4 linked regions of the Homo sapiens genome follow. The protein of the gene in region 4 purifies or fractionates together with the protein of the main gene of each other region. This does not show direct contact. Each region holds a gene or a part of one and is shown on either strand. Other genes may lie near its edges. The genes, in order: DDX19B, SLC25A15, AP1G2 and UPK3B.

Region 1 (7,033 bases), on a different chromosome or scaffold from region 4:
GGTCAACAGAGTGAGACCTAATCTCAAAAAAAAAAAAAAAAAAAAAAAAAAGAAGAAGATGTGGAGTGCTTCAAATCCCACCAGAAAATCTTATTTCTATAGTGCCCTGTTCTTGTGAAGCTAGCATATGTAACTCTGCTACATAATCCAAGGTCTCCTATAAATGAATTTTTAATACTCATTTTTTTAAACTTTGTTAACTAAAAGGTTGAGATTTAAGCTCCTAACTAGTTTGTTTCTTGCGCAGCCCACAGAACTTAATTGCCCAATCTCAGTCTGGTACTGGTAAAACAGCTGCCTTCGTGCTGGCCATGCTTAGCCAAGTAGAACCTGCAAACAAATACCCCCAGGTAAGGATTTATGAATTTAGGTTTTCTACTAATGCATAGATAGAAGGGGATTTCCATTTGATGGATTAAAAGACAAGCTATGGGCTGGGTGCAGTGGCTCATGCCTGTAATCCCAGCACTTTGGGAGGCCGAGGTGGGCGGATCACCTGAGGTCAGGAGTTCTAGACCAGCCTGGCCAACATGGTGAAACCCTGTCTCTACTAAAAATAAAAAATTAGCTGGGCCTGGTGGCATGTGCCTGTAATCCCAGCTACTTGGGAAACTGAGGCAAGAGAATCATTTGAACCCGGGAGGCGGAGGTTGCAGTGAGCTGAGATCGCACCATTGCACTCCAGCCTGGGCAAAAAGAACGAAACTCTGTCTCAAAAAAATAAAATAAAAGCCAAGCTATGCATTACTTTTTACACAAACTGAAACTCCTTAAATTGAGCACAAATAATACGGGATATCTTCCAATGGCAATAAAAATCCTGTTTCCTTTTTCCATGGTGTGCCAGTTCTGGGATGCTTCTTACAGGCTTGGCTCCTTTACTTGCAGGAAAACCTGTTTCATCAGCAACTGCCATCCATTAGAAAGTTCTGAGAGCTTTCTGAGTAAACGAAAAGAAAGCTAATGCCAATTGGAACTTTAGATCCTTGCTCATGGGTGGGTTTTTGTATTGCAGTGGCCAGTATCTGTTTTCAAGTGTCTTTACCCAGCCAGAGTTCTGACCCCTAAGAATTCTAGCTTATGACTCTGTAGCTTAAAGAATCAAATGGTGTACATTTTAATGTACATATTCTTTCCTTCAGCTTCAGCTGGAGGAGTGGCTAAGTACTAATGGTAATTCCCCTTTGCAAAAGAGCTATTGTCTTGAATTTGCACTCTGCATTCTTTTCCTGCCAGTGTCTATGTCTCTCCCCAACGTATGAGCTCGCCCTCCAAACAGGAAAAGTGATTGAACAAATGGGCAAATTTTACCCTGAACTGAAGCTAGCTTATGCTGTTCGAGGCAATAAATGTGAGTATGTGAATTTGGTCCTAAATCATCAACCTAATTCTTTTTATTTTGAAATATTTCAAAACCCACCCAATAGTTGAAATAATACAATAAACACATGTATGTTCTCCAGCTAGATTCAAAAACTTAACATTTTGCCATATTTGCTTTACATAAATGTATACATTTTTGTCAAACCATTTGAAAGTAAACTGCAGACATGCACCTCATGAGGACATTCTTTGCCATACCTATGGATACCCTTTTATCACAACCAGGAAAATTAACAGATTTCCTAGAATAACTAATACCAGTCCATTTTTATTCCTCCCCAGCTGTTCCCAAAGTCTTCCTTTATAGCTGTTTGGTTTTTCGACCAAGATCAAGTTAGCGTTTATACGTTGCGTTTGGTTGTTGTACTTGTTTCTTTCAATCTAGAATTGTACCCCTACCTTTTTCTCTCCCTATTATATTTAACATTTTGCACAGACCAGACTAGTTGCTTTTCAAATATTCTACATTCTGGCCGGGCGCGGTGGCTCACGCCTGTAATCCCAGCCCTTTGGGAGGCCGAGGCGGGCAGCAGATCACGAGATCAGGAGATTGAGACCATCCTAGCTATCATGGTGAAACCCCGTATCTAATAAAAATACAAAAAAATTAGCCAGGCGTGGTGGCGGGCACCTGTAGTCCCAGCTACTTGCGAGGCTGAGGCAGGAGAATGGTGTGAACCTGGGAGGCAGAGCTAGCAGTGAGCTGAAATAGCGCCACTGCACTCGAGCCTGGGCGACAGAGCGAGACTCCGTCTCAAAACAAGCAAACAAACAAAAAACAAACAAACAAAAATTCTACATTCTAGATTTGTTTATTTTTATTTATTTATTTTAGAAACAGAGTCTTGCTCTGTCACTCAGGCTGGAGTACAGTGGCATGATCTTGGCTCACTGCAACCTCTGCCCTCCGGGTTCAAGTGATTCTCCTGCCTCAGACTCCCAAGTAGCTGGGATTACAGGTGCCTGCCACCATGGCTGGCTAATTTTGTATTTTTAGTACAGATGGGGTTTCACCACGTTGGCCAGGCTGGTCTCAAACTCTTGACCTCAGGTTATCCATCTGCCTCGGCCTCCCAAAGTGCTGAGATTATAGGTGTGAGCCACTGTGCCCAGACTTCTTTCTTTTTTTTTTGAGAGAGAGTCTCGCCCTGTCGCCCAGGCTGGAGAGCAGTGGCACAGTCTTGGCTCACTGCAAGCTCTGCCTCTGGGGTTCACACCATTCTCCTGCCTCAGCCTCCTGAGTAGCTGGGACTACAGGCGCCCACCACTACGCCCAGCTAATTTTTTGTATTTTTAGTAGAGACGGGGTTTCACTGTGTTAGCCAGGATGGTCTCTATCTGCTGACCTCGTGATCCTCCCGCCTTGGCCTCCCAAAGTGCTGGGATTACAGGCGTGAGCCACTGCGCCTGGCCGCCTTCTTTTTTTTATTTTGAGACAGTTTCGCTAGGTCACCTAGGCTGGAGTTCTGACTCCAGGCACGAGCCACCGTGCCTGGCCACACCCAGCTAATTTTCTAAAAATTTTTTTTGTAGGCCAAACATGGTGGCTCATGCCTGTAATCCCAGCACTTTAGCAGGCCGAGGTGGGTGGATCACGAGGTCAGGAGATAGAGACCATCCTGGCCAACATGGTGAAACCCCATCTCTACTAAACATAGAAAAATTAGCCAGGTGTGGTGGCATGTGCCTGTCGTCCCAGCTACTCAGGAGGCTGAGGCAGGAGAATCACTTGAACCCGGGAGGTGGAGGTTGCAGTGAGCCAAGATCGTGCCACTGCACTCCAGCCTGGGCGATAGAGCAAGACTCTGTCTCAAAACAAAACAAACAAAAAAAAACAAACAAATTTTTTTTTTTTTTGTAAAGACAGTGTCTTGCTATGTTGCCCAAGCTGGTCTAGAACTCCAAGTCTCAAGCAATCCTCCTGCCTCGTCCCCTCAAAGTGATGGGATTACAGGTGTGAGCCACTAGGCCAGGACTGAATTTGTTTAATTGCCTAATTTATTTATCTTCATTAGCAGAATAAAAACCCAGAATGTTTATGGCTATTGACTCTGGGGCTTATTCTGTTAATTATTTTTTGTTACTAATTTTTTCTACACTAGTTTGTTTTACAGTTAATATTATTTAAGTAATTTTAAAAGTGTTGTTGGCCGGACATGATGGCTCATACCTGTAATCTCAGCACTTTGGGAGCCTAAGGTGGGTGGATCATTGTAAGGTTAGGAGTTCGAGACCAGCCTGACCAACATGATGAAACCCAGTCTCTACTAAAAATACAAAAATATTAGCTGGGCATGGTGGTGCACACCTGTAATCCCAGCTACTCAGGAGGCTGAGGCAGGAGAATTGCTTGAACCCGGGAGGGGGAGGTTGCAGTGAGCCGAGATTGCACCACTGTACTCCAGCCTGGGCGACAGAATGAGATTCTGTCTCAAAAAAAAAAAAGTGTTAGAGGTTTGGTTGAGTTTTATGGATCTCTGAAACAAATGTGACCTTATGAAAATCAAGTCTGCATACAGTGTCCTAATGCCAACTTGAGGCCAGTTCTGAAAAGTAAATAATACAGTGAAACTTATTGGGAGATAATCATTTAAAATTTTGCAATTTGTATTCGAATTAGAAGGGTAGAGAATTCTGAATTTTTTTTTTTTTTTTTTTTTTGAGACAGAGTCTCAGTCTGTCTCCGGGCTGGAGTGCAGTGGCGCGATCTCGGCTCACTGCAACCTCCGCCTCCTGGGTTCAAGCGATTCTCCTGCCCCAGCCTCCCAAATAGCTGAGATTACATGAGCCCACCACCACACCCAGCTAATTTTTGTATTTTTAGTAGAGATGGGGTTTCGCCATGTTGGCCAGGCTGGTCTCGAACTCCTGACCTCAGGTGATCCGCCTGCCTCAGCCTTCCAAAATGCTGGGATTACAGGCATGAGCCACCGTGCCCGGCCCTTTTAGTTATTTTTAAATGTACAATATATTGTTGACTGTAGTCACCACATTGTGCTATCAAATGCTAGATCTTACTTATTTTAATTGTATTTTTGTACCCATTACCTTTTCAGCATTTTTGTCTGTTTTTATGTCCATTAAATGCTATAGTGATATCCTAACCTTTCCTTAATATATTAATGCAAACAGCAAAACATTTGCATTAAAATATATAATAGGTTTAGAATTTCTCAGAGAGAAGAGCTGGCTTTGCCTTTGAAATACCCATGGAGGCCGGGCACGGTGGCTCATGCCTGTAATCCCAGCACTTTGGGAGGCCGAGGCAGGTGGATCACCAGGTCAGGAGTTCAAGACCAGCCTGGCCAAGAGAGTGAAACCCACCTCTACTAAAAATACAAAAAAAAAAAAAATTAGCCAGGTGCAGTGGCAGGTGCCTGTAATCCTAGATACTTGGGAGGCTGAGGCAGGAGAATCGCTTGAACCTGGGCGGCAGAGGTTGCAGTGAGTCGAGATCATGCCATTGCACTCCAGCCTGGGCAACAGAGTGAGACTCTGTCTCAAAAAAAAAAAAAAAAAAAAAGAAAGAAAGAAATACCCACACATGGAAAACATCTTGGGGTCTCCACAGTGGAAAGAGGCCAGAAGATCAGTGAGCAGATTGTCATTGGCACCCCTGGGACTGTGCTGGACTGGTGCTCCAAGCTCAAGTTCATTGATCCCAAGAAAATCAAGGTGTTTGTTCTGGATGAGGCTGATGTCATGATAGCCACTCAGGGCCACCAAGATCAGAGCATCCGCATCCAGAGGTAGGGATCTCGAGGGTGGGGGACTCCTCAGATTCCCCATCTGCAGTGTCTTCTCCCTTCACTTCAGATGCCTCCTCTGGCTTCTGCCTGGGTCTTGGCTCTCGTACTCTCAGCAGCATTTGTTTGACGGGCCACTTCCGTGTCAGCGCTGGCCACAGTCCCTCCCAGCCTGGGTTGAGAAAGGAGACCTAGGGACTCTCCCCCAACCCCTGTCCCCATCCCAGGCCTGCTGCTCCTCCTCCCCAAGACGCTCCTCTCCCATCAGCCTTCCTGGGCATCTAGACCCTCCCAGCTGGGAAGGCTGTGCTTCTGTCGCTTCCCGGGGCCACCTGGGGCCACCTACCAGGGCCTTCCCTTGCAGGATGCTGCCCAGGAACTGCCAGATGCTGCTTTTCTCCGCCACCTTTGAAGACTCTGTGTGGAAGTTTGCCCAGAAAGTGGTCCCAGACCCAAACGTTATCAAACTGAAGCGTGAGGAAGAGACCCTGGACACCATCAAGCAGTACTATGTCCTGTGCAGCAGCAGAGACGAGAAGTTCCAGGCCTTGTGTAACCTCTACGGGGCCATCACCATTGCTCAAGCCATGATCTTCTGCCATGTGAGTAGCAGTGGCAGTGGCAGGCCTGGCCCTTCCCTCTCAGCCAGCTCCCCACAGGGCTCAGGAGGACTGGATGCCCCTGGGTGCCATGGGAAGAAACGAAGTGGTTTGTTCTCCTAAGGTTTTAGTGAGTCGTAAGAGGGAGACTTTGATTCCACTTCTTAGTGATTACTTGGAGAAAACCCCAAGTAACAGCCAATGAAATAATTTTTAGATTTTTAAGAATATAAGCTGGGCGGCTGGCACGGTGGCTCATGCCTGTAATCCCTGCACTTTGGGAGGCCAAGGCGGGTGGATCACCTGAGGTCAGGAGACCAAGACCAGCCTGGCCAACATGGTGAAACCCCATCTCTACTAAAAATACAAAAAATTAGCCGTGCGTGGTGGTGTGCACCTGTAATCCCAGCTACTCAGGAGGCTGAAGCAGGAGAATCGCTTGAACCCGGGAGGTGGAGGTTGCAGTGAGCTGTGATTGCTCCATTGCACTCCAGCCTGGGTAACAAGAGCGAAACTCTGTCTCAATACAAAAACAAACAAACAAACAAAAAACCAACAACAAAAAAAGAGTATAAGCTGGGCAAGTACCTGTAGTCCCAGCTACTCAAGAGGCTGAGGTTGGAGGATCGCTTGAGCCCAGGAGTTCAGACCAGCATGGGCAACATAGTGAGACCTCATCATTAAAAATATATATATGGCTGGGCACAGTGGCTCACGCCTGTAATCCCAGCCTTTTGAGAGGCTGAGGTGGGGGGATCTTCTTGAGCCCAGGAGTTCAAGACCAGCTTGCACAACATAGCAAGACCCCATCTCTACAAAAATTTTAAAAATTAGCCAGGCGTGGTGGTGCATGCCTGTGGTCCCAGCTGCTTGGGAGGCTCAGATGGGAGGATTGATTGAGCCCAGGAGGTTGAGACTGCAGTGAGCTGTGACTGTGCACTCCAGAGTGGGCAAGAGAATGAGATCCTGTCTCAAAAAATTTAAATTTAAAATAAAATTTTAAAATATATATGTTGTTTGTTTGTTTTTGAGATAAGGTCTTGCTCTATCATTCAGGCCAGAATACAGTGGCATGGTCATAGCTCACTGCAGCCTTGGCTCTTGTTACTAGGGCTACAGGTATGTGCCCCATGCATGTCAGCCTAATTTTTATTTTTATTTTTGTAGAGGTGGGGTCTTGCTATGTTGTCCAGGCTGGTCTCAAACTCCTGGCCTCAAGCAATCTTCCAGCCTCAGCCTCCCAAAGCCTAAGACTACAGGCACGAGCCACCATATCTGGCAAGAACATAGACTATTTAGGAATGA
Region 2 (7,033 bases), on a different chromosome or scaffold from region 4:
CCTGTAATCTTAGCTACTTGGGAGGCTGAGGCAGGAGAATCGCTTGAACCCCGGAGGCGGAGGTTGTGGTGAGCCAAGATCGCGCCATTGCACTCCAGCCTGGGCAACAACAGTGAAACTCTGTCTCAAAAAAAAAAAAAAAAGACATGTCTCTGAAAATGAGACTGATAATGGACTGTGTCTTAGAGCCGTGAAAGTTGTAGGATTTGCTGGGAATGTCAGCTAACCTGAGCCTAGGGGCCTGAGCCCAAGAGCCTGAGGCTCCCCCAGCACAGGGAGGTGCTACCTGTGATAAGGGGTAGTGCTGGCACCATGCAGGCTACTCCTTAGAAAGATCAGCTTGAACATGCAGGAAGAGCAGGACCCTCAGGCTGGGAAACAGGGCGGAATGGGAAGTGCATGGTGGTAATTTGGTTCTCCAGAGTCCAGAAGTAGGAGGAGTGGCTGGAATACTGATTGCCCAAAGGAAAACCCTGGACTACCCTGGGCTCCCGCAGGATTCTCATAGTAGTTGCAGCTCCCTGGAGTGGGGAGGCCAGCGGGGGTGTTGCCCAGTGCTGTCCTTATCCAGCACACCCCCCACCCCCACCACCAGCAGATGAGTATGGTCATGAATATGGTCACCTCATCAGTCATTTGCTCAATTGTGAAAAAGAAATTGTTCAGAGAAGAGCAAAGTGTTTTTCCATGAGCCAAAGGTCAGCCAGGGTATGCTAATGAGGAAGACTGGAGAGAGCGCGTCACCGTCACCGAGCCTAATGAGGAGCACTGGGCAAGGGCACTTCTCCCAGGGCAGAACCCACAAGGAGCGTCCCAGCCCCAGATGCCCAGGGAACGGAAGGCCAGTGGGGGTCTGCCCAGTAGTCTCTTGCCCACTGCGTGCCTTTAGGCTACAGCCTCCCAAGCCCCTTTCCCCCTCCCCTCCCCCATGCCACACTGGGGAGGACGCTGACCCTGAGAATGGTGCAAACATCTGCCTGCCCCAGGCCGCCTCTCACCAGCGAGTGAATGCTCTTGGGCTCAGTTCTGTTTCTGCAGAAGGAGGGTGTTTAGCCACATATAGTCTCAGCTTTTGACATTTTATGTCTTTCAGTCAATCTGTCAAAGATCTAGAACCTATGGTGATAGAATTTAAAAGTTTACCTTTTCCTATTTATGTGCATACAGGTATTTGGGTACCACATTTATAATTTACAAGTTAGTTTGAAAGATAGAAATTGCAACAGTATGGTTGGGAGCCTGGTATGTAAGGCATTTGCTGGTGGGCATGTTTTGAACATGTATTGATCCCTTATGTATACTGACACACTGTCCCCATCACTGTTGGACAGGTATTTCCCCCTGTGCTGGCGACACAGGGACGCCCCTCACCGAGGTAGAGATGCTGTGGGTAGTCTTAACTTCTGAGGACAACGAAGCCCATTCCTGGGGGGACAGGATAGGGAGGGGGAGCGAGACATGGTCTATAGGTTGGGGGCTGGGCAGAGGAGGTGCCTAGCAGTGACACAGAAACCTCTGTTCTGCTGTGAGGCCTATGGAATGCAAATGGAACCCACTTTTGAGGATCTTGGAGTCTTGGAGTGCTGGAGCTAGAGAGACCTTTAGACATTGTTGGCTCCAATGCTCGTTGGATATGTAGAAAAAGGCCCACAGAGGAGCAGTAGATTTGTTCAAGGTTACACAGCAAGATGGTGTGAAGACAGGGCAGGACTGTGATCCCTGGGTCCCTTGTCTGGTGTCGTTGCTGTCTCTGCTTTAGTACTCCGTAATGCATCTGCAGCACACTGGAGGGGAGGGTTAGTTTGGAGCCTTTGGGCCCTGCCTTTCTGGATGTGGAACTTGCTGGGCTTTGGGAATTTTCTGCCAGCCATTGATAGGAGCAGAGGACCTGTTGTGTTTTGTGGCAGAGGTCACCCACGGAAGCGATCCATCTGTAAGCACAGAGCCAGCTGCAGCCCGAGGTGATGTGGATGGAGCTTAAATGTGGTGTTGTGTGTGTCTCTTCTTTTCCTTTAAACAACGTTTTCCCCACCACACAGGTTTTTAGCCAGCTTATCTACTCTAAAGTGCTGGGAAGTTCCCATTTCCCTATCTGCAATGGCTGTAAGACATCTAGATCCCTAAACAGCTAGGATAAAGGAGGATTTCAAGAACTTAGGTGATTAGGTAATTATTGAAATGGGGGTGCGTGGATCCCAAAAGTTAAATAGCCTTAAAGAGAAACTTGGTACCACTTTAATAGTCATTCAGCAACTCTAAAACAATGCAGTCACTACTTTGACTACTGTTGCAGTTTACCTTGTTTAGCATAGTTGGAGAATGTGGCATTTCAGATCATTGAAGTTTATCTTCTCAAATGCCAAAATTAAAAACAACCCCAAACCTTTTTTGATTGGAGTTTCTTGAAAATGATATTCTTCCCTGCCCTGTTAAACCTTTACGATGGCCTCCAGAGGGGTTTGAGGGTCTCACCTCTGCTTGGTGGGCCTGGTCCTGTGGTGTGAGTCTGCTTCTCTCTCCTCACCTCTCTGCCTTCTTCAGAGCTGTCCCTTCCCTGAGACACTGTCCCTGCCCTGATAGATTTCCTCTGTATCTCGTGATTTACTGACTCTATGTCAAGGACTGAAAATCCAAACCACCACCCTTAGTAAAGTGTTAGGTATGACATAATCTGAGTGCCTTTCCTGCGGAATAAGATGCTTGGCTGGCCACCATATCGCCGAAAGAATGTTGTTATTTGTCTTTTAAGGAGAATAAGATCAGAAGTCTGATTTCTAGGCAAGTGGAGAAATATAATATTTATTCATGGCTTTATGGACTTGATCGATCTTTGAGAACCTACTAGGTGTCAGTCTCTGTGGTTGGTACTGGTGTTCAGAACAGTCTTCTCTCACTTGAGGGCACAGTGAGCGCCGTGACCATATCATTTGTGGTAAATTACACGGGAAGTTAGCTTACCCTTGCAGAGGACGGGAGACAGTTGTTGCTAGCATTTGTACATTCATTAGCCTCCCCCTTCTCCCTGTTGGAAATGTAACTGTCCCAGCTACACAGCAAATGTGTATTCTAGTAACCTGTGATGCCTGAACTGTTCAAGATGATCAAGTTAAAATATGAATGTGCTGAATTAAATGCTTTATTCAGCTTATCTGCATCTAGGCTCTCTGAATTACGCACCCACTTAAAACATTCTGTCACCTTTTCTCTTGGAATAATTAAATTATTTTAATGTAATTCAGATTTCTTTTTATCCTAGCCCAGCATTACCTGGGAGAGAATGACTCAGGATTAATCATAATAAAATCATATTAAATTATATTCCACTAATTCAGAATTGGGGATAATTTGGCAATTAAAGGCGGAAGTGTGTCATTCCTCTCCTGTAAGAAATGAACAGTAATGATGGGCTCACAGAGATCATATTGCTTGTTGCTTAAAAAAGAGATCAAGCAGTTTTCAGACTCTGGAATTGTTGGCTTATTTGCCAATAAATAATTGAGAATTATTCTTAATGTCCCTTCCCCCAACTCCACTTTCCAGAGTTTAGATGGAATAACTGTGTATAACATCAAATTCAGGAAGTTGCATTTCTTAAATATTTTCTGTAAGCCTTCTTTTGCATTTTGATGAAGCTTTAAGAGCTCCTCTCAGGTCCAGAAGGAGACGGTAAACACTAACCACTGGCAGTTCCCACGACGCCAACCCTACTACAGGGTGTGGGGATGTTGTAGGGTGGTTACAGTTCATTCTTCTCTTCTGTTTAGAATTTTTACTAAAATGATTTCACGTGGCTGGGCATGGTGGCTTATGCCTCCCAGCATTTTGGGAGGCCAAGGCAGGAGGATCATTTGAGGCCAGGAGTTAGAGACCACCCTGGCCAACATGGTGAAACCCCATCTCTATGAAAAGTACAAAAATTAGCCAGGCGTGGTGGTGGGTGCCTGTAATCCCAGCTACTTGGGAAGCTGAGGCACAGGAATTCCTTGAACCTGGGAGGTGGAGTTTGCAGTGAGCTGAGATTGCACCACTGCACTCCAGCCTGGGTGACAGAGCAAGACACCATCTCAAAAAAAAAAAAAAAATTATTTTGTGCAATGTAGACTCTGCTGTATTTAATCTTATAGAAGTATATAAATAAAGGATTTAAGCATAAATAAATTTCAGTTCATTCTCTATTTACATACACGTTATTAATCGGTAGAGCTCAAATTAAAGAGGTTTTTCTATAGAATGAAATATTTAGCTCTTTGGGGATTAATTAGCCAGACTCCTTGTTTCCTTTCCGTGGTGCCGGGTCTGATCAGTCCCACTGGGCATTAGGCAAAGTGAGCGATGAAGTCTTCCCAGGTCTCCCCTCCCTTTCTGTGGTTTCCGTTTCTTGTGCACACAGTAGCTGCTGTTTACTGATTACGTAGCCGGTGCTGTGCCAAGCCTGTCTCCTCCATTTTTATTTAATCCTCACGCTAACCCTGTGAGGTGGCATGGATGAGGAGCTGAGGCTCAGAAGTTACATGGCTTGTCCAGGATCTCACAGCAAAGCCATAGTCCCTCTGACCCTATTGCCCAGGCTCCTACATATTCACTGCACTGTTTGCCGCTGTTGAACACATGTCTGTCTCTCTCCCCTGCCTGGCATGAGCTCCTTCAGGGTGGGACTTAGATGCCAGGCACATCAAGGACCTGCTCTAAATTGTTTACTGGACATGGCTGGAAGGTTTTGGAGGAAAAGAGGTTGAAATGAACCGAAGCAGGGGTAAGTTCTGGGGTAGGCTGCCTGTGCCTTCCTTCCATGGATAATGGAACTGTAGCCTCGTACTAGAGCAGTCATCTGTCCTGATTGCAGGAGGTACAGCATGTGTACTGACCGGGCAGCCCTTTGACACAATGAAAGTGAAGATGCAGACGTTCCCTGACCTGTACCGGGGCCTCACCGACTGCTGCCTGAAGACTTACTCCCAGGTGGGCTTCCGTGGCTTCTACAAGGGTACCAGTCCAGCACTAATCGCCAACATCGCTGAGAACTCAGTCCTCTTCATGTGCTACGGCTTCTGCCAGCAGGTGGTGCGGAAAGTGGCTGGATTGGACAAGCAGGCAAAGCTGAGGTGAGTCAAGGACACACACTTTTTTTATTTGTTTAAAAAAACCCCACAAAACTGGCAAGACATGGTGGCTCATGCCTGTAATCCCAGCACTTTGGGAGGCAAAGGCAGGAAAATGGCTTGAGGCTGAGAGTTCAAAACCAGCCTGGGCAACACAGCAAGATCCTCATCTCTACAAAAAAATAAAAATTAAAAAAAATCTACTGTTGTATGGTCACAATTTTACTGGTGCCTTATGTGGAAGAACATTTCCTTTTTTAAAAATAACTGCTTTCCTTTTATTTATGAAGTTATACATTGTCATCATATAAAACTTAGAAACCACATATGCACACCACAGAGGAGACCTGCTCATCATCCACCACTGAGAATGAACCGCCCTTCTGTTTCAGTTTTCTCCAGGAGAATGCTGTTCAGATGCAGCTGGCAGTGCTACCTCTCGTCAGCAGACATGCTGCACTGAAACTGTAGATGCTGCTTATGATCCAAGATTTAGCTTTTCTTTCATTAGCAAAAAGCAGAGTATTGGAAGAGGTTGTCTGAGCCAGATGAACTTGAGGAGTTTTAGGAAGGGTCGGAAATGTCTGCGAAGATGCAAGGGAACCCACCTTTCTCTGTCCAAATCTTCCCAAAACATCAGACTTTGCCTCTTTGTTGGTCTTGCCTTGGGTATTTATTATATAGAGACTAAACAGAATTTGGAAACCACTGGGATGTTTAGCTATCCCTGCTTTGAATGTTGATTTATTTTATACCACTTAAAATTATTATATAAGCTTCAAGATTGCAAAGGGCAGTCTTAGTTATTTCAGTAGGAGTTTGAAACCTGATTGCAGCTGCAGGTCCCACACAACTGAATTCGGTTTCTTGTGCACAGCACTGTTCTCTGGAGGTGCCTGGAGGTCTGAAGGTGTGCCCTTTTATAGACAGGAATTCCACCATGATGGGTAGAGCTTGTTTTTTAAAAAGGCTTGGGACTAGATACGATTGCCCAAGAAGACAGTGTAGACAGCGAGGAGGGCTGAGCATGAATGGGATGAGCCTCCAGCACAGAAAGGGCAGGCAGGAAGGCAGTAAAGAAACAAGCAGGGCACAAACCAGGAGAGTATGGCATGCCATGATGGAGACTGAACAGAAGCAAAAACTACAGGCAACTGTAGTTTTGTTCCCTGTTGAAGGAGAGACACTCTATTAGAGAAGACCTGGAATTCAGTTCAGTTTCCTTAGCAAAGGACAAAATGGGGAGAGAAGACAGGGAAACAGTAAGCAGCCACGTGAGATTCTGGGGAAGACCTGTGTCTTCTGAGCAAAGTAGCCCCTCCAGCCACAGGATAGACAGTGACTTCTGTCTTGCATGAGTGAAACCACTGGATCTGGCTCTGCCCGCCCCTCCACTTTCTTGCTTCCTTAGCCTGTGAACAAAGTGAAGGACAGGTAAGAGCATATTGCTTTTCTGCTGAGAACAATCTAATACCTTACAGCTGCATTTTCCCACACTGCTTTCAGAACATTGAATTGCTGGGTGTCCTTAAGAAAGGGTTGGGAAATTACGTCACAGTGTCTCTCTCGTGAAGAATCACTCTGGGTACATTTATTTCATATAGTGTATGTGTTATTTAGTTCATTAAAGATGCGTAAGGCTGGGCACAGTGGCTCACGCCTGTAGTCCCAGCACTTTGAGAGGCTGAGGTGGGCAGATTACTTGAGCCCAGGAGTTTGAGACCAACCTGAGCAACATGGCAAAACCCCGTCACTACAAAAAATACAAAACTTAGCTGAGTGTGGTAGCACATGTCTGTGGTCCCAGCTACCAGGGAGGCTGAGGTGGGAGGATTGCTTGAGCTCAGGAGGCAGAGGTTGCAGTGAGATGATGCCACTGCACTCCAGCCTGGGCAACAGAGCGAGACTGTGTCTCTCAAAAAAAAAAAAAAAAG
Region 3 (7,833 bases), on a different chromosome or scaffold from region 4:
AGTAACAACAGGAGGTGCTAACTGCAAAGAAGGTGGTAGTATAGCTCATAAGCACCAAGCAGGACTGCAGGGGATGTGCTAAAAGAGTGAGGTCTCGACTGTCACTGGGAAGGGGGCAGGATAGGAATGGAATTACACAGTTCCAGGAGGGCCTGGCCCTTGCAACTGGAAGAAGTGTTACTACAGGACGTAGCAGTAGAAGGGTGTGAGAGGAGCAGGAGGGTGTGATGGTGGCAAACACAGCCCAGGTCAGGGGGAGGAAACCAAACGGGAGCTGCCCTGGCCTGCCAGGAAGGGAAGCAGCTGGCAGAGTGTGGCGAAGGGTGACGACTCCAGAGGAGAGGAGGATGTGATGTAGAGGGGACAGGGGCTAGGGGGCTGGAGCATCTGAGCAGGGACTAACTTGAAGTGGGGGAAGTTCTGCTAAATCCCTGTCTCTGGACCCGACAGGGCAGCAGACGCCCTCCTAAAGGCAGTGGCAGCCAGCAGTGTCGCTGAGAAGGCCGTGGAGGCAGCTCGAATGGCCAAACTGATAGCCCAGGACCTGCAGCCCATGCTAGAGGCCCCAGGTGAGGCATGGACAGCTGGGGGGAGGGCAGTGAGGCCCCTAGGGAGCTAGAGAGGCTCAGGTGTGGGGAAACAGATGAGAAGCCCTGCAAGGGAAGTGGGGATGGGAAAAAACAAGGAATGAGGGTGCAAGGAACACAGGGTGGGGGCCAGACCTGGTAGTCTGGGGAGTGGGACTTGGGAATGTATGCAGTAGGATAATGGGGGGTTTGGGGTCTGGCGGTGAGAGGCTATGAGCCTGGGAATTCCAAAGTCCTGGGAAGTGCCCAGTCAGGAATAAAGCTGCAGCCACTCCAGCCCAAGGCCAGTTAGGCCCCTCTGATTCTCAGCTATCCCTACCCAGGCCGCAGACCCAGGCAGGACTCAGAAGGTTCCGACACGGAGCCCCTGGATGAGGACAGCCCTGGGGTATATGAGAACGGACTGACCCCCTCAGAGGGATCCCCTGAACTGCCCAGCAGTCCTGCCTCCTCCCGCCAACCCTGGCGACCCCCTGCCTGCCGGAGCCCACTGCCTCCTGGAGGGGACCAGGGTCCCTTCTCCAGCCCCAAAGCTTGGCCTGAGGAGTGGGGGGGGGCAGGCGCACAGGCAGAGGAACTAGCTGGCTATGAGGCTGAGGATGAGGCTGGGATGCAAGGGCCAGGGCCCAGAGACGGTTCCCCACTCCTCGGAGGCTGCAGCGACAGTTCAGGAAGTCTTCGAGAGGAGGAGGGGGAGGATGAAGAGCCCCTGCCCCCGCTGAGGGCCCCAGCAGGCACGGAGCCTGAGCCCATCGCCATGCTGGTCCTGAGGGGCTCGTCCTCGAGGGGTCCTGATGCTGGGTGCCTGACAGAAGAGCTCGGGGAGCCCGCTGCAACCGAGAGGCCTGCCCAGCCGGTGAGATCCTCTGTCCCTGCTGTGTGCCCTCTTCTCCCAAAGCCTTGCCTCCCACCCTTTCCAGAACTGTCTGATCACCGGGGGGGCTTTTTATCTCACTCGGCTTCCTCTGCCTGGCCAGTCTTGGACCACATCCCACCTCAAAAAAATAGAGGGCGTTCGAGCTGGAAGGAACCTTACACACCTGCAAGCCCAACTCCCTCATTTGACAGATGGGGGAACTGAGGCCCAGAGCACTTAAAGTAACTTGCCCAGGCCGGGCGCGGTGGCTCACGCCTGTAATCCCAACACTTTGGGAGGCCGAAGTGGGCGGATCACGAGGTCAGGAGATCGAGACCATCCTGGCTAATACAGTGAAACCCCGTCTCTACTAAAAATACAAAAAAAATTTAGCCGGGCGTGGTGGCGGGCGCCTGTAGTCCCAGCTACTTGGGAGGCTGAGGCAGGAGAATGGCGTGAACCCGGGAGGCGGAGCCTGCAGTGAGCTGAGATCGCGCCACTGCACTCTAGCCTGGGTGACAGAGCGAGACTCTGTCTCAAAAAAAAAAAAAAAAAAAAAAGTAACTTGCCCAGGGTTGTAAACTAATAATTAATGGGAGAGCCAGAACATTTTTCCCCCGTTCTCCTTCCATATCATTTCCAGCTCTCAGTTTCCTACTCCACCCCCACCCCCACCTCCGCACTTTCTCTCTTTGGTGCCCAGAAATAAAAAAGGAAAAGATTGTTCCCTCCCTACCCTGACTCTCCCTCCCTCTCCCGGGAAGAAGTTGAAATAGAGAAGAAGGCAGAAAACCGGGAGAGGCGGAGTTTGCCCAGAACCCTCTACTCTGATTGGGCTCTAGGCCTTCTGTTTCCTAGCAACCACATCCTCACCCCTTCATCCCTCTGCCTTACTGCAGTACTGGCTGCTGCTGCCAATGTCTGCTACTAAGGCCAGGCACCTCCTGCCTGGGACACATGATATGCTGATGGGAGGGGACTAGAGGGAGGAGGTGGAAGGGCTGTCCCTGCATTGAAGGTGTCAGAGGAAAGGTGGGGCCCTGCCTGGGAGAAGAGGGGGTTTTGCAATCCAAAACAAATGTTGGCGATCCCCCTGCTCCAGGCTGTGCAGGGAGGTGCCTGAGACCCTTCAGCTCTGCCACCTCAGTCAGGGCAGGAAGGTGGGCCCTGTCCTCGGGGACTGAGTCTGCTTCCCCCTCTGTCTCTCTAGGGAGCTGCCAACCCCCTGGTGGTGGGAGCCGTGGCCCTCCTGGACCTCAGCCTGGCATTCCTGTTCTCCCAGCTCCTCACCTGAGGCTACTTCCTGGCCTGGTTCTGGCTTTGGTTGCGTGCCTCTTCACCCCTTTGACCTGCCTTTTTTCTCTTCTCCTCTTCCTGGCTGTGTTTTCTCCTATCTTTCTTTCTCTTCTTCCTTTCTTTTCTGTGCTCCTTTGTTTTTTTCTCTCGCTTTTTCTTTCCCTGTCTTCTTTCAGATTATCTCATTTCTTCTGGATCTGTCTCTGTATTCCTCACTCCCTTCCCCATCCCAACCCCTTCTTTCTCTAGATTGTTTACATATGAAGGGCTTTTCTCTCTCAGAGTTGCTGTCTTCTCTGAGACACACAAATCTAAGTCAGACCATTGCTCCACGCCCTCCCACCTTTTCTTTAGACCTCAACTTCGCTGCGGGTGGGGGTTTGGTGTCCTAAGGAGACTCCTGGAAGCTGAATGGAGAGGAGGAAGAAAATGAAGAAGGAGTGATTGAATGTCGGGCAAGGCACTGGCTGAGCTGCTGTGGCTCCCTAGCCTAAGGGGCCTGCTGTCCCTCTGAGGCCTAGTGAAAAAGCTGCAGGAGGTGCATCCTCCACCTCTAATCTTGGAGGCTATTATCTTACCTCCAAGCACTGAGCTGGGTTACTGCCCAATTCCATCCTTCCCTGAAGGAGAGAAGGGAAGTGAAAAGTAGAGTAACTCCCCAGCATTTCCCTCTTTTTCTCCTCATCGGCCAGCCCCTCCTCCAGCCCCCTCTGGTGGCATGCCATGCCAAGAGCAACGTGTAAAGGAACAGAGAATATCCAATGCAGTCAAGTCCACCCTGCCCAGACTTTGCCACTGACTTCTCCCACCCTTCTGTCTCCCCCATAATAGTTTATTTGGTTGGTCTGGACTCACTTGTGGCCTTTGATTAAATTCCTAAGGGGCCTGAAGAAGACATTTCTACTGCAGAGGGTTAGAGGCACTTGAGCAAGGCCCCCACATCCCAACTCTGGGAGTTGTGGTGGGAGGAGGCACTTCTGGGGGATAGGACCAGACAAGATAACAGGAGCTCACATGGAAGCAGAAGCTGTGACAAGTTTAGTAGTCCCAAAATGGGTTATATCCCTTCCCCCTTTACATCAGAATCTTGTGAAATGGGAAAACAACAGAAGGAGGGGATCAAAGATAGCTGATCTCACATGCTTCCCAGGCAGGGCAGAGGTGGGAGTCAAACCCGGGTGACAGGTGGGTGGAGAGCCCTGTTTGAGGTTGTGGCTGATCCCTCTCTGGTATTAGTTTTTCCCCTGGGAGCAGGAAGCCCTAGGAAGAGGGGACTGCAGGGTCCCCAGGGGATCTTTCCTCCCTCCCCTGCATGAGGCAGAGGCAAGCTGCCTGCCAACCCCCTCCCTCAAGGAATGGCCTTGCCCAGGAATGCCCACCACACATACCCTCTTCTTTTTTTCTAGTCAAACTCTTGTTTATTCCTTGGCTTGCCTCCCTCCTTCCTCCCCTCTCAACCTTTACTTCTGATTTCTATTTCATGGAATTTGGGATTGAAGTTAAACTACAACAGTGCCGCCAACACCAAGTCTTGCAGGAAAAAAATACAAAGAAATTTAACAAAAAAAATATATTAATAAAAAAGTTCAAAAAAGGGGGGGGATTGTCATCTCCTTTGGGGTGCGATGGCTTCAAATCCAAACTGAGGCTCTCCGGGTGGTAAGGATGTGCGAGGAGGCCTCTTGAAGAACTCCAGGCCTATCATGCTGTCTCTCCGCTAAAGCCTGAGGCCCGAGGTCAGAGGATTCAGGAAGGCTCTGCAGTCGGCCCAGGAGGGCGGGGTCCCGTGGTGGAGGCGGGGAGAGGGAAGGACCGCACGGAGCACCAACCCCTGCTCGGCCCCGTACCAGGAAGCGCTGGGGGGCAGAGGAGCGGAGTTGAGGCAGAAGCCAGGTGAGGCTGGAGTCCTGGGGTAGGCAGGCTGTCGCTGCCGCTGCCGCTGCCTGAGATGGAAATCGGGGGAGGAAGCTCGCGGAAGAAACAGCGGAGGGTCGTGGAAAAAAAAGCAATGGCTGAGCTAGGGATGGGGTACCAGGTAGGGGGAGGAAACGGTAGAGAGAAATAGGTGGGGCTCCCGCGCATGCTCAATAGGAAGGGGCGCCGGTGGGGTGCGGACGCATGCGTAGTGGGCTTCTCGGGCGGTGGGGTGGGCGCGGAATTTGGAGACCCACTTCGGGAAAGGTAAAATGCGGGCGCAATTTTAGGGTACCTGTGGGACCCGGGCTCTTAGGGTCTTGACACAGGACGGGCCTGGGCCGAAAGCCCAGGCACGCCCGACCAGAGAGTGTTTCTCCACTCCCGGACTCTGCCAGTCAGGATGGTGGTGCCTTCGCTGAAGCTTCAGGACCTCATCGAAGAGATTCGCGGGGCCAAGACTCAGGCCCAGGAGCGGGAGGTGATCCAAAAGGAGTGTGCCCACATCCGGGCCTCCTTCCGCGACGGGGACCCAGTGCACAGGCACCGGCAGCTGGCCAAACTGCTCTACGTCCACATGTTGGGCTACCCCGCCCACTTTGGACAGGTACTGGCCAGGAATACCTCCCTCCTGAGCTTGATGAAGGCTAGTGGGGCAGAGTCCCAGACTCTCTCACCTGTTTATGCCCTGGTTTTTTAAATTCTACAATTTCAGAGTCTTCACAGCCTGCACTGCAAACCTCTTTCCCCATTGCTACCCCTACTGGTCATCAGCTGGCCTGAACCCTTCATTCTCTGGCCAGCCTCCTTTAGGGCAGGCATCTCCTCCTCTCCGCTCCCATCCTCCTCAACTCCTAGTTCCTCCTACCCACTAACGCCTGAATTTCCTAAGCTTCTCCTCTTGTTGAAGGGAGAGTGATGAGATATGATGCCCCACAGGTTAATCTGGTTTTAAAGAGGAAGATGGAACAGGGATGTGAGTGTCTATGGTTTCACCCCTGCCTCTTCCTGGTCTGCCCCCTTCACTATAGATGGAGTGCCTGAAACTGATCGCCTCCTCCAGATTCACAGACAAGAGGGTGGGCTACCTGGGGGCCATGCTTCTATTGGATGAGAGGCACGATGCCCACCTGCTCATTACCAACAGCATCAAGAAGTGAGAGGGTTCTGGCAATCACTTGGAATCAGGGAGATGGGAGAGTAGGGACCTTGGAAATCCCAGGGGACTGCCTGTTGTGGGTATTGAAAAGGACTGATTTTCTCAGAGGTTTGACTGACCGTCCTCCCAAACCCTGCAGTGACCTGAGCCAGGGGATTCAGCCAGTACAAGGCCTGGCCTTGTGCACTTTGAGCACCATGGGCTCTGCTGAGATGTGCCGAGACCTGGCCCCAGAGGTGGAGAAACTGCTCCTGCAGCCCAGTCCCTACGTGCGCAAGAAGGTGAGATGGCGGGACTCCTGGCACGTGCTCCTGCACACTGCCTGCTGCGTGCTATATAGTAGTAGATGCAGGGGTCCATCTCCTCTGACCCCTGTCTGAGGCCCCTGACCTCTGCAGGCTATTCTGACTGCAGTGCACATGATCCGGAAGGTCCCTGAACTCTCCAGTGTCTTCCTCCCACCCTGTGCCCAACTGCTTCATGAGCGTCACCATGGTAAGGCTGTGGGGCCCCCCATCCTTTGCTTCAGGTCTATGGACAGAAGAATTGAAAATCGGATGGGAACCCCAGCTCACAGGAGAAGGGTAGTGCACACACACAGGCACACACGCAATAGACTCTCTTGCCCCTGGCCCCCACCATTCACTTCCCCGACGCTGACCCCAGGCATCCTGCTGGGCACCATCACGCTGATCACGGAGCTCTGCGAACGAAGCCCTGCAGCCCTCAGGCACTTCCGAAAGGTGGGCTGGTGAAGGGGCAGGCCCTGGGCCTGGAAGACAGGGTCAGTGGGGAAGGAATGGGGCTTTAGCTGGAGAGGATTAGAACGAATGCCCAAAGTTGTGCCCTCCCTCCAGGTGGTACCCCAGCTGGTACACATCCTCCGGACTCTGGTGACAATGGGATACTCCACAGAACACAGCATATCTGGAGTCAGCGACCCCTTCCTGCAGGTGGGGTGACCTTTCACTGCTGTATCCCTGGATCAGAGAGGGCATAGCAGTAAGACCATGACCAGTGGTTTCCTCCCAGAGAACACTGGTTCTCTCAGTGTCCTGGGCAGCAGAGTAGCAGGCACAGGATTGCTCGGGTCATCCCAGGACCTGTGAGGGGAGAGGGAATGCCTAAAAGTCAGGAAAATACAGTTTGTTAACAATTTTTTTTTTAAGCCTGTCCTAAACTCCCCTGGCCTCACACACCTCTGTTCCCCTCCTAGGACCAAGGGACCTGTGGAGGTGAGGAGGTGGGGGAAGGCTCTAGGGAGCGAGCCAGACCCTCACATGTTGGAGTTTTCTCCTCAGCCCCACGACTCCTTATCCTATGAACCCCTCCAACTTTCCATTTTCAACCCAACCTCAGGTCCAGATACTTCGTCTGCTTCGGATCCTGGGCCGGAACCACGAGGAGAGCAGTGAGACCATGAATGACTTGCTGGCCCAGGTGGGGCCTGGGAGGGCACTGGTTAGCTGTGTTGCTTGGAGACCCCATCAGCCCTGGGTGCCCCTCACATGACTCGTCACTGTGCAGTGGCCGTGTAATTGCCTCTCCATCTCCTCTAGACAGTGAACTCCATGAAGAAGGGACACAGTCTGTCTTAGTGCTATTGCCCCAGTGCCCAGGCTGGCCCTGGCACATAGTAGAGCCTCAGGGAACTTTGTTGGATGGTTGAAGGATGGACAGATAACATGTTGGAGTCCTTCAAGAATCCTGAGGATTACCTGGGCTTGTTGGCATGTGCCTGTAGTCCCAGCCACTCAGGAGGCTGAGGCAGGAGGATCATCAGAGCCTGGGAGGTCAAGGCTGCAGTGAGCTTTGGGCGACAGAGTGAGACCCTGTATCAAAAAAAGGAGACCTGAGGAGGGCCTTGAGCAGATACATCTCCTCTCTCATCCACTCAGGTGGCCACTAACACGGACACCAGCCGAAATGCCGGAAATGCGGTCCTGTTTGAGACAGTACTCACCATCATGGATATCCGCTCTGCAGCTGGCCTACGGGTATCACCCCTTATGCCTCTCCCA
Region 4 (7,004 bases):
GGTCAGGGCTGGAGACTGGGCGAACACAGAACCCCCACTCATAAGGACAAAGCTGCTTTCTCCCCTCCCACCTCCATCTGTTCTCTCCTCCTGCAGCCTCCAGGGGCTTCCAGAACCCGGAGACACTGGCTGACATTCCGGCCTCCCCACAGCTGCTGACCGATGGCCACTACATGACGCTGCCCCTGTCTCCGGACCAGCTGCCCTGTGGCGACCCCATGGCGGGCAGCGGAGGCGCCCCCGTGCTGCGGGTGGGCCATGACCACGGCTGCCACCAGCAGCCCTTCTGCAACGCGCCCCTCCCTGGCCCTGGACCCTATCGGTGGGTGGTCCCCACCGGAGCCCTGGGACTGGGGCTGTGCTTGGGGCGGACGCATTGCTGGGACCAGGGATGCTCTCTCTAGCATCTTTCCAGGGAGGGGTCCCCGGCCCCGGTCCTCCCCTTTGCAAGCCCGGGCTCCTTCCACTGTAGAGTCAGCAACAGTGCTCACCCCCGCTGGGGCCGGGCAAGGCCCAGGAGGAGCAGGTGGGCACCTTGGGGAGGCGGGATCTTAGTCAAGGTGGGAGGGGGCAGCTTCCCCAAAGTCTAGGCCCCTGTCCCCCACCACGGGCAGATCTGGCAGGAAACTCGGGGGCCGAGTTCAGACCCAGTCTCGTCGGTATTAGGCAGGGAGCAGGAGAGGTGGCTCCTACCCGCTCTTACAGATGAGGAAACTGAGGCACAGGAGGTCAAGTGGCCTGCCAACATCGGGGTGGAGCCGGGATGGGGAAGCAGGCAGTGTGTCCAGGTCAGGACTGTCCGGACACAGGAGGAGGCGGGGTGACCTCAGGAAGACCAGGCCCAGGGGAAGCCGGGAAGGCAGGGCGTGGTGAGGCTGGAACAGCACCCCGCTCCGCCCAGCCCCCTTCTGCCCTCTCACCCACTCTCCAGGTCCACCCTCTGCCCTCCCCGCTGCCTCACCCTGGCTCAGCCTTCCAGCTCCATGCCCCGCCCCATCCCCCGCAGCCACTCTTTTCAATGCCAACCTGCCAGGTCCTTCCCCGCTTCCCAGGCCTTGCAGAGCTCCCAGCCCTGCAAAGAGACAAACCGAGGCCCTCTGCGGGGCTCCTGGTGCCCTGGGTCCTCAGGCTGCTGGTGATTGAGCCCCCTGCCCCCGGCTACTGCTGCCCCTCTGGGAGGCCTGTGACCCCTGCCCCATGTGCCCTGCTAAGCCACCTTCACCTGCTCTTTTGGCTTGTGACATTTAGGAACCAGGGCCCCTAAACCAGCATCCCCGGCCCAGGTCTGGTGTCTGGAGAGCAATTGCTCGGGGGGATGAGGGGTGGTGGCACAGGCCAAGTGGCTGGAGACATCTCAGGGGATTCTCAGAGCAGGGCCAGGCCATGGGCTGCTGCTCTTGACGGGCACCCCCACTCCACATCCATGGGAGGGCCCCAGAGGAGCTGCCTGGGGCTTGGCCCTGCCCAGGGTGGTCCCAGCCTCTGAAGCTCTCCCCTCCTCCCCCACCACCTCCCATCCCCAGGGTGAAGTTCCTCCTGATGGACACCAGGGGCTCACCCAGGGCTGAGACCAAGTGGTCAGACCCCATCACTCTCCACCAAGGTAGCGCTGGGCAGGAGGGGCGCTGCCCCCAGTGGACTCACGATCTCTCTGGGCCGCCTCTGCTGAGCTGGCCACACCCCTGCTCCCACAGGGCTGGGGGCCTGGAGGCCATGTCCAAGTCGGGCCCAGCCCCCAACAGAACCTCATGCTGGGGGAGTGGGGCACCCAGCCAGCCCCCTCGGCAGGGGCACCATCTCGGCCCATCCGCAAGCGTTTGCCACATTGTGGGCACAGACAGCCTCCCCCCTCCTGTAGGGAGTCAGCCTGTGTCAGCCCCTGCTGGGAGGGAGGAAGAGGGTGTGGAGGAGGTCAGGGTCAGGGTCGGGGCTGGCTGGGGAGGCAGCCAGCTTGAGTTCTGAGCAGACCCCAAGGGGCAAGCGTGAATGTACCAAGCCCAGAAGTTTCGAGTGCCACGGCCCAGGTGTCGGGGGTGGGGGTCTCCTGGGAGACGGCTTCAGAGGTCAGGGGGTGTGGGGTGGAAGTCTTGTCATCTGAAGGCCTTGACTGCTGGGCTCCAGGGAGCAGGGCAGTGGATGAGCACGTGGGTGGGAGCAGCCTAGAAGGTAGGAGCAGGGCGGAGGCTGTGGTCCAGGCTGGCAGAGAACAGATGCTGTGCCGTCCCGAGGAAGAGGGACGGGGGGTGGGATCAGGGGGGCGCCTGGGGATATGAGACAGCCAGACCTTGAAGCTAGGCCAGCGTGGGTGGGGAGGGAGCGAGGGAGGAGATGACAGCCAGCCCTGGGGTCGAGGGGCAGCCCCTCTGAGCAGCTGGTGTGTGTGCAGGGAAGACCCCCGGATCCATCGACACCTGGCCAGGGCGGCGAAGTGGCAGCATGATCGTCATTACCTCCATCCTCTCTTCTCTGGCCGGCCTCCTACTCTTGGCCTTCTTGGCAGCCTCTACCATGCGCTTGTGAGTGGGGACACCCCCTCGGGCCCCTCTCCCACCCAGAACCCCTCTGTTGAATTGGTCCCAGTGTCTGGAAGCCCTCCAGGCATGCCATGGGGTTTATTTTATTTTTGGTAGAGACAGGGACTTGCTATGTTGCCCAGGCTGGTCTGGAACTGCTGGGCTCAAGCGATCCTCCCGTCTCGGCCTCCCAAAGTATTAGGATTACAGGTGTGAGCCACCTTGCCGAGCCCCGTGGTTTCGAGCTGGGCAGCGCCCCTCCCAGGGCCTGTGCAGGGAACTCCCACCCTGAGTATCTCGCACCTCAGGGGTCATTGATGGGGCCAGCAGCCCCTCTGAGGACAGGTTCGGGAGGTCCCGCCTCACTCGGGCCCTGTCTTTTCAGTGTGTCCTCAGCCAAGGCCCTTCTCCTCCCGGGCCTCACCTGCTGTCTGTGGATCCTCTGGTGGTTTAGTAAGCTGACGCCAGGGTAGTCAGGGTGGCCACCTGGAGAGGTGGTCCTCCAATTGGTTCTAGAAGGGAGGAAGGAGGGATCAGAGACTGCAGGTGAGGCCGGGTGCAGTGGCACATGCCTGTAATCCTAGCACTTTGGGAGGCCGAGGTGGGAGGATCACTGGAGGCCAAAAGTTCAAGACCAGCCTGAGCAACATGGTGAAACCCCATCTCCACTAAAAATGCAAAAATTGTCCGGGTGTGGTGGCAGGCACCTGTAATCCCAGCTACTCGGGAGGCTGAGGCAGGAGAATCGTTTGAACCCGGGTGGCGAAGGTTACAGTGAGCTTAGATCACACCACCGCACTCCAGCCTGGGTGACAGAGCCAGACTCCATCTCAAAAAAAAAAAAAAAAAAAGAAAAGAGAGAGAGAGAGACTACACATGAGGGAGCTGGGAGGGAGGAGAGCAGGCCTTGACCCAGCACGTGCCCCATGTGGCAGGGACATATGTCTCTTCCTCCTCCTCTCCCCGCCCAGCTCCAGCCTGTGGTGGCCGGAGGAGGCCCCGGAGCAGCTGCGGATCGGCTCCTTCATGGGCAAGCGCTACATGACCCACCACATCCCACCCAGAGAGGCCGCCACACTGCCGGTGGGCTGCAAGCCTGGCCTGGACCCCCTCCCCAGCCTCAGCCCCTAGCCTGGCCTCTTTGCATGGGGCTGGGGGAGATGGGGCGCTGGGAGTGAGTGCATGGTGCTTTGTCCCAGCTCCTGCACCCACAGGCCCCCTCAGGGCTCCTTGCCTTTCCCCCCCACCAGCACACCCCGTACCCTGCCTGGAATCCCAGCACCAGCCCCCCTGCCTCTCCTCTGCCTTTCTGGTTTCTCTCCCTCTCCAAGCATCTGTAAGTTGCACTCAGGAGGGTTTAGGGGAGGGCCATGGGCAGGCTGGATACCCAGTCCCCACCTCCATCCCCACCTCTGTCTCACCTGACCTCCTGCGAGGGAGGCTGGAGACTGTGTGGACAGGCCGCCCTGACCGCAAGCTTCCAGACCCTGGGAGGAGGCCTGCAGAGGACTGTGCTTTGCCTGATGCAGGGAGCTGGGCCCATCCTGGGGCCTATGAGACCTGAGCCACCCTCCGTCCCCCATCCCACACATCAGTGGCTGGGCGGGGTGAGGATTCAGAGGCATCTCTACTGCCCCTGGGCACAGCACCTTTCTGAGAGTGGGACTCTCCATGGTCATCTGACTACCAATTCTGGCCACCACCTCCAACCCTCTTGTGCATATGGATGGCTCTAGCCCTTATCCACCCCCTCAAGCATTTATTAAGCATCTGCTGTATGCTACATACAGTGTTAGACTTGGGGCTTCAGGCATAGCCGGTCCTGACCTTGGGGAGATGCCTTCTCTAGACCTGAGACGACCACGTGTCCAGATGTGACCTGTTGCTGTCGGGGGTCTATCAGGCCCTTAGACCGTCACCCCAGTAGGCTCTCCAGGACCCAGGAGCCTCCATCACCTGGAAGGACCCTCTGTGCAAAACCTCAAGCGTCCATCTGTGCACAAGGCCGGTGGTTCCCGTCGTCGCCACTCGGGGTCGCCGGTGAGCCGCAGCCAGGCCGCCTCACGGCCAGTGTGCATGCTCGCTGCTATTCGCTGCCCCTTCTGCCTCCGAGGCGGTAGCAGATGCCACGTTGGCGGGGTCGGTGAAGGTCAGGACTCTAGGCCTCCCTCCGCCAAGCCAGAGGGATGAGCAATCACGCCTGAGAGCCCACTGCGTGCCATGCAGTCCGCACAGCCGCAGCGGTTTTCTAGATGGAGAAACTGAGGCTCAGTGACTTGCCCGCTGCACTCTGTCCACGGCCGCTGCACACGCCCCCTTGGGCTGCGCTCCCGGACCTTCTAATGTGACCACGGCTCCCGGCATGCAGGCCCTGCCAGCGGAGGGAGCCCGGTGGTGACCCTTGGTCTGCAGCCCTCTTTGGAGGTGAATAAATGCGGTCTGGAGCCCACCCTGGCCTGAATGGTGCCCCTGCTGGGACAGGAAATTTATGCCGGGAGCCCAGGGCCCTGCTCAGCTTCTGCCCCATGGGGTTACCCTGAGCCTGTCCCTTGATTGCTGTCCCGGCTTGTACTTTGAGGTGCCCCCATCTCCTAGGAAAATCCACACATGTGTTTCAGGGCCAGGTATGTGGTTTAGGTAGTGCTCCCTCCCAAGCAAGCCCTTGAGCCCCTCATCTCTGGAGGCTTCTCCTCCATGCTGCCTGCACCCCCACCAGCCACCAGAACCCCTTCAGGTATAGACAGAAACAGATTCAGTCAAATTCCTTGGTGTCCCAGGTGACGTCTGGCCAGGGGAGCCAGCCCCTTTAAGTTACACTATTGCATGGCTCACACCCGGAATCCTAGCACTTTGAGAGGCTCAGGCAGAAGGATTACTTGACCCCAGGAGTTCCAGACCAGCTGGGGCAACAACATAGTGAGACTCTATCTCTACTAAAAATGAAAAAAAAGATTAGCCAGGGGTGGTGGTGTGCACCTCTAGTCCCAGCTACTCGGGAGGCTGAGGCAGGAGGATCACCTGAGCCCAGGAGTTTAAGGCTGCAGTGAGCCGTGATCGTGCCACCGCACTCCAGCCTGGACAATAGAGTGAGACCCTGTCTTGAACGAACAGGCCAGGCGCAGTGGCTCACACCTGTAATCCCAGGACTTTGGGAGGCTGAGGTGGGCAGATCACTTAAGGTCAGGAGTTAGAGACCAGCCTGGCCAATGTGGCAAAACCCTGTCTCTACCAAAAATACAAAAATTAGCAGGGCATGGTGGTGGGGGCCTGGAATCCCAGCTACTCGGGAGGCTGAAGCAGGAGAATCACTTGAACCCAGAAGGTGGAGGTTGCAGTGAGCCAAGGTCTTGCCACTGCCCTCCAGTTTGGGTGACAGAGCAAGACTCCGTCTCCAAAACAAAACAAAACACACAAACAAACAAAAAAACCCCACCACGGTGGAGCCCAGGTCCCTCTGCCTGGAACTGAGAGAGAGTTAACAGACGGGCTTGGTGTCTCATGCCTGTAATCCCAACTTTGGGAGGCCAGGGCAGGCGGATTACTTGAGGTCAGGGGTTTGAGAGCAGCCTGGCCAACATGGTGAAACCCTGTCTCTGCTAAAAATACAAAAATTAGCCTGGTGTGGTGGTGGGTGCCTGTAATCTCAGCTACTTGGCAGGCTGAGGCAGGAGAATCACTTGAACCTGGGAAACGGAGGTTGCAGTGAGCCGAGATCGTGCCACTGCACTCCAGCTTGGACGACAGAGCGAGACTCCAACTCAAAAAAAAAAAAAAAAAAAAGATAGAGTTAAAAGACCACCTCCCTGTCAGTGACCCTTCAGCAGAGACTGTCTCACGCTGTTCTATCCAGACCCAAGACAGTTGGCTAGGGGCCCGGCCCCGGAGGGGTATGACAGGGAGAAGGAGGGGGCCGTTGGTGTTTGCTGTGTGAAAAGATGAATTAATCCTCCCAGGGTTCAAGGACCAGCTAGGAGCAGGATTGCCATGGCTTTTTTTTTTTTTTTTTAACGTGGAGTCTCACTCTGTTGCCCAGGCTGGAGTGCTGTGGCGTGATCTCTGCTCACCACAACCTCCACTTCCCAGGTTAAAGTGATTCTCGAGCCTTGGTCTCCTGAGTCGCTGGGATCACAGGTGCCTGCCACCACACCCAGCTAATTTTTGTACTTTCAATAGAGATGGGGTTTCGCCATGTTGGCCACAGGCTTTTGCATGTCCTGGGGCCCTTCTATGTTTGTTCTCACTGTCTGAATCCGTGCTGATGCCAGACGCAGCGCCAGGGACTTCCCATTCGAGCCTGCAGCTGCCCCTCCCTTCTGCACAGCCTCTCTGAGCCCACTGAGGAGCTGCCATCACCCTCAGGAGCCACCTGGAACTTGACTTTGGAAACACCCTCTAAACAGATCTTGGAACCTAGGGTGTAAAGACTGAATCATAGTCCAGGAGTCCAGGGGAGGCTACTGGCCCCCACTGAGAGCCAAGGGGGCTTCCTAG

What was found.
Region 1: the proteins of UPK3B (region 4) and DDX19B purify together in Homo sapiens (affinity purification with mass spectrometry; one large-scale study listed by BioGRID and IntAct). This does not show direct contact.
Region 2: the proteins of UPK3B (region 4) and SLC25A15 purify together in Homo sapiens (affinity purification with mass spectrometry; one large-scale study listed by BioGRID and IntAct). This does not show direct contact.
Region 3: the proteins of UPK3B (region 4) and AP1G2 purify together in Homo sapiens (co-immunoprecipitation; 2 studies listed by BioGRID and IntAct, with this or other methods). This does not show direct contact.

What each region holds. Positions count from the first base shown.
Region 1 is NC_000016.10:70,324,338-70,331,370, forward strand, and holds part of DDX19B (ATP-dependent RNA helicase DDX19B), read left to right. Parts: intron 1-247; coding exon 248-350; intron 351-1,236; coding exon 1,237-1,351; intron 1,352-4,954; coding exon 4,955-5,132; intron 5,133-5,493; coding exon 5,494-5,731; intron 5,732-7,033. UniProt on the Homo sapiens protein: ATP-dependent RNA helicase involved in mRNA export from the nucleus.
Region 2 is NC_000013.11:40,794,214-40,801,246, forward strand, and holds part of SLC25A15 (mitochondrial ornithine transporter 1), read left to right. Parts: intron 1-2,771; exon of another isoform or gene 2,772-4,843; coding exon 4,844-5,102; exon of another isoform or gene 5,103-6,511; intron 6,512-7,033.
Region 3 is NC_000014.9:23,564,538-23,572,370, reverse strand, and holds the start of AP1G2 (AP-1 complex subunit gamma-like 2), read left to right. Parts: upstream 1-4,579; 5' UTR 4,580-4,632; exon of another isoform or gene 4,633-4,819; coding exon of another isoform or gene 4,820-4,920; exon of another isoform or gene 4,921-5,051; 5' UTR 5,052-5,055; coding exon of another isoform or gene 5,056-5,056; coding exon 5,057-5,260; exon of another isoform or gene 5,261-5,684; coding exon 5,685-5,809; coding exon of another isoform or gene 5,810-5,951; coding exon 5,952-6,093; exon of another isoform or gene 6,094-6,210; coding exon 6,211-6,307; coding exon of another isoform or gene 6,308-6,478; coding exon 6,479-6,555; exon of another isoform or gene 6,556-6,669; coding exon 6,670-6,765; exon of another isoform or gene 6,766-6,915; intron 6,916-7,171; coding exon 7,172-7,252; intron 7,253-7,530; exon of another isoform or gene 7,531-7,644; intron 7,645-7,710; coding exon 7,711-7,809; intron 7,810-7,833. Other genes in the region: JPH4 (junctophilin-4), read left to right, coding at 451-569, 911-1,443, 2,654-2,737.
Region 4 is NC_000007.14:76,511,561-76,518,564, forward strand, and holds the end of UPK3B (uroplakin-3b isoform d precursor), read left to right. Parts: intron 1-96; coding exon 97-322; intron 323-1,523; coding exon 1,524-1,603; intron 1,604-2,386; coding exon 2,387-2,516; intron 2,517-3,484; coding exon 3,485-3,644; 3' UTR 3,645-4,962; downstream 4,963-7,004. UniProt on the Homo sapiens protein: Component of the asymmetric unit membrane (AUM); a highly specialized biomembrane elaborated by terminally differentiated urothelial cells. May play an important role in AUM-cytoskeleton interaction in terminally differentiated urothelial cells.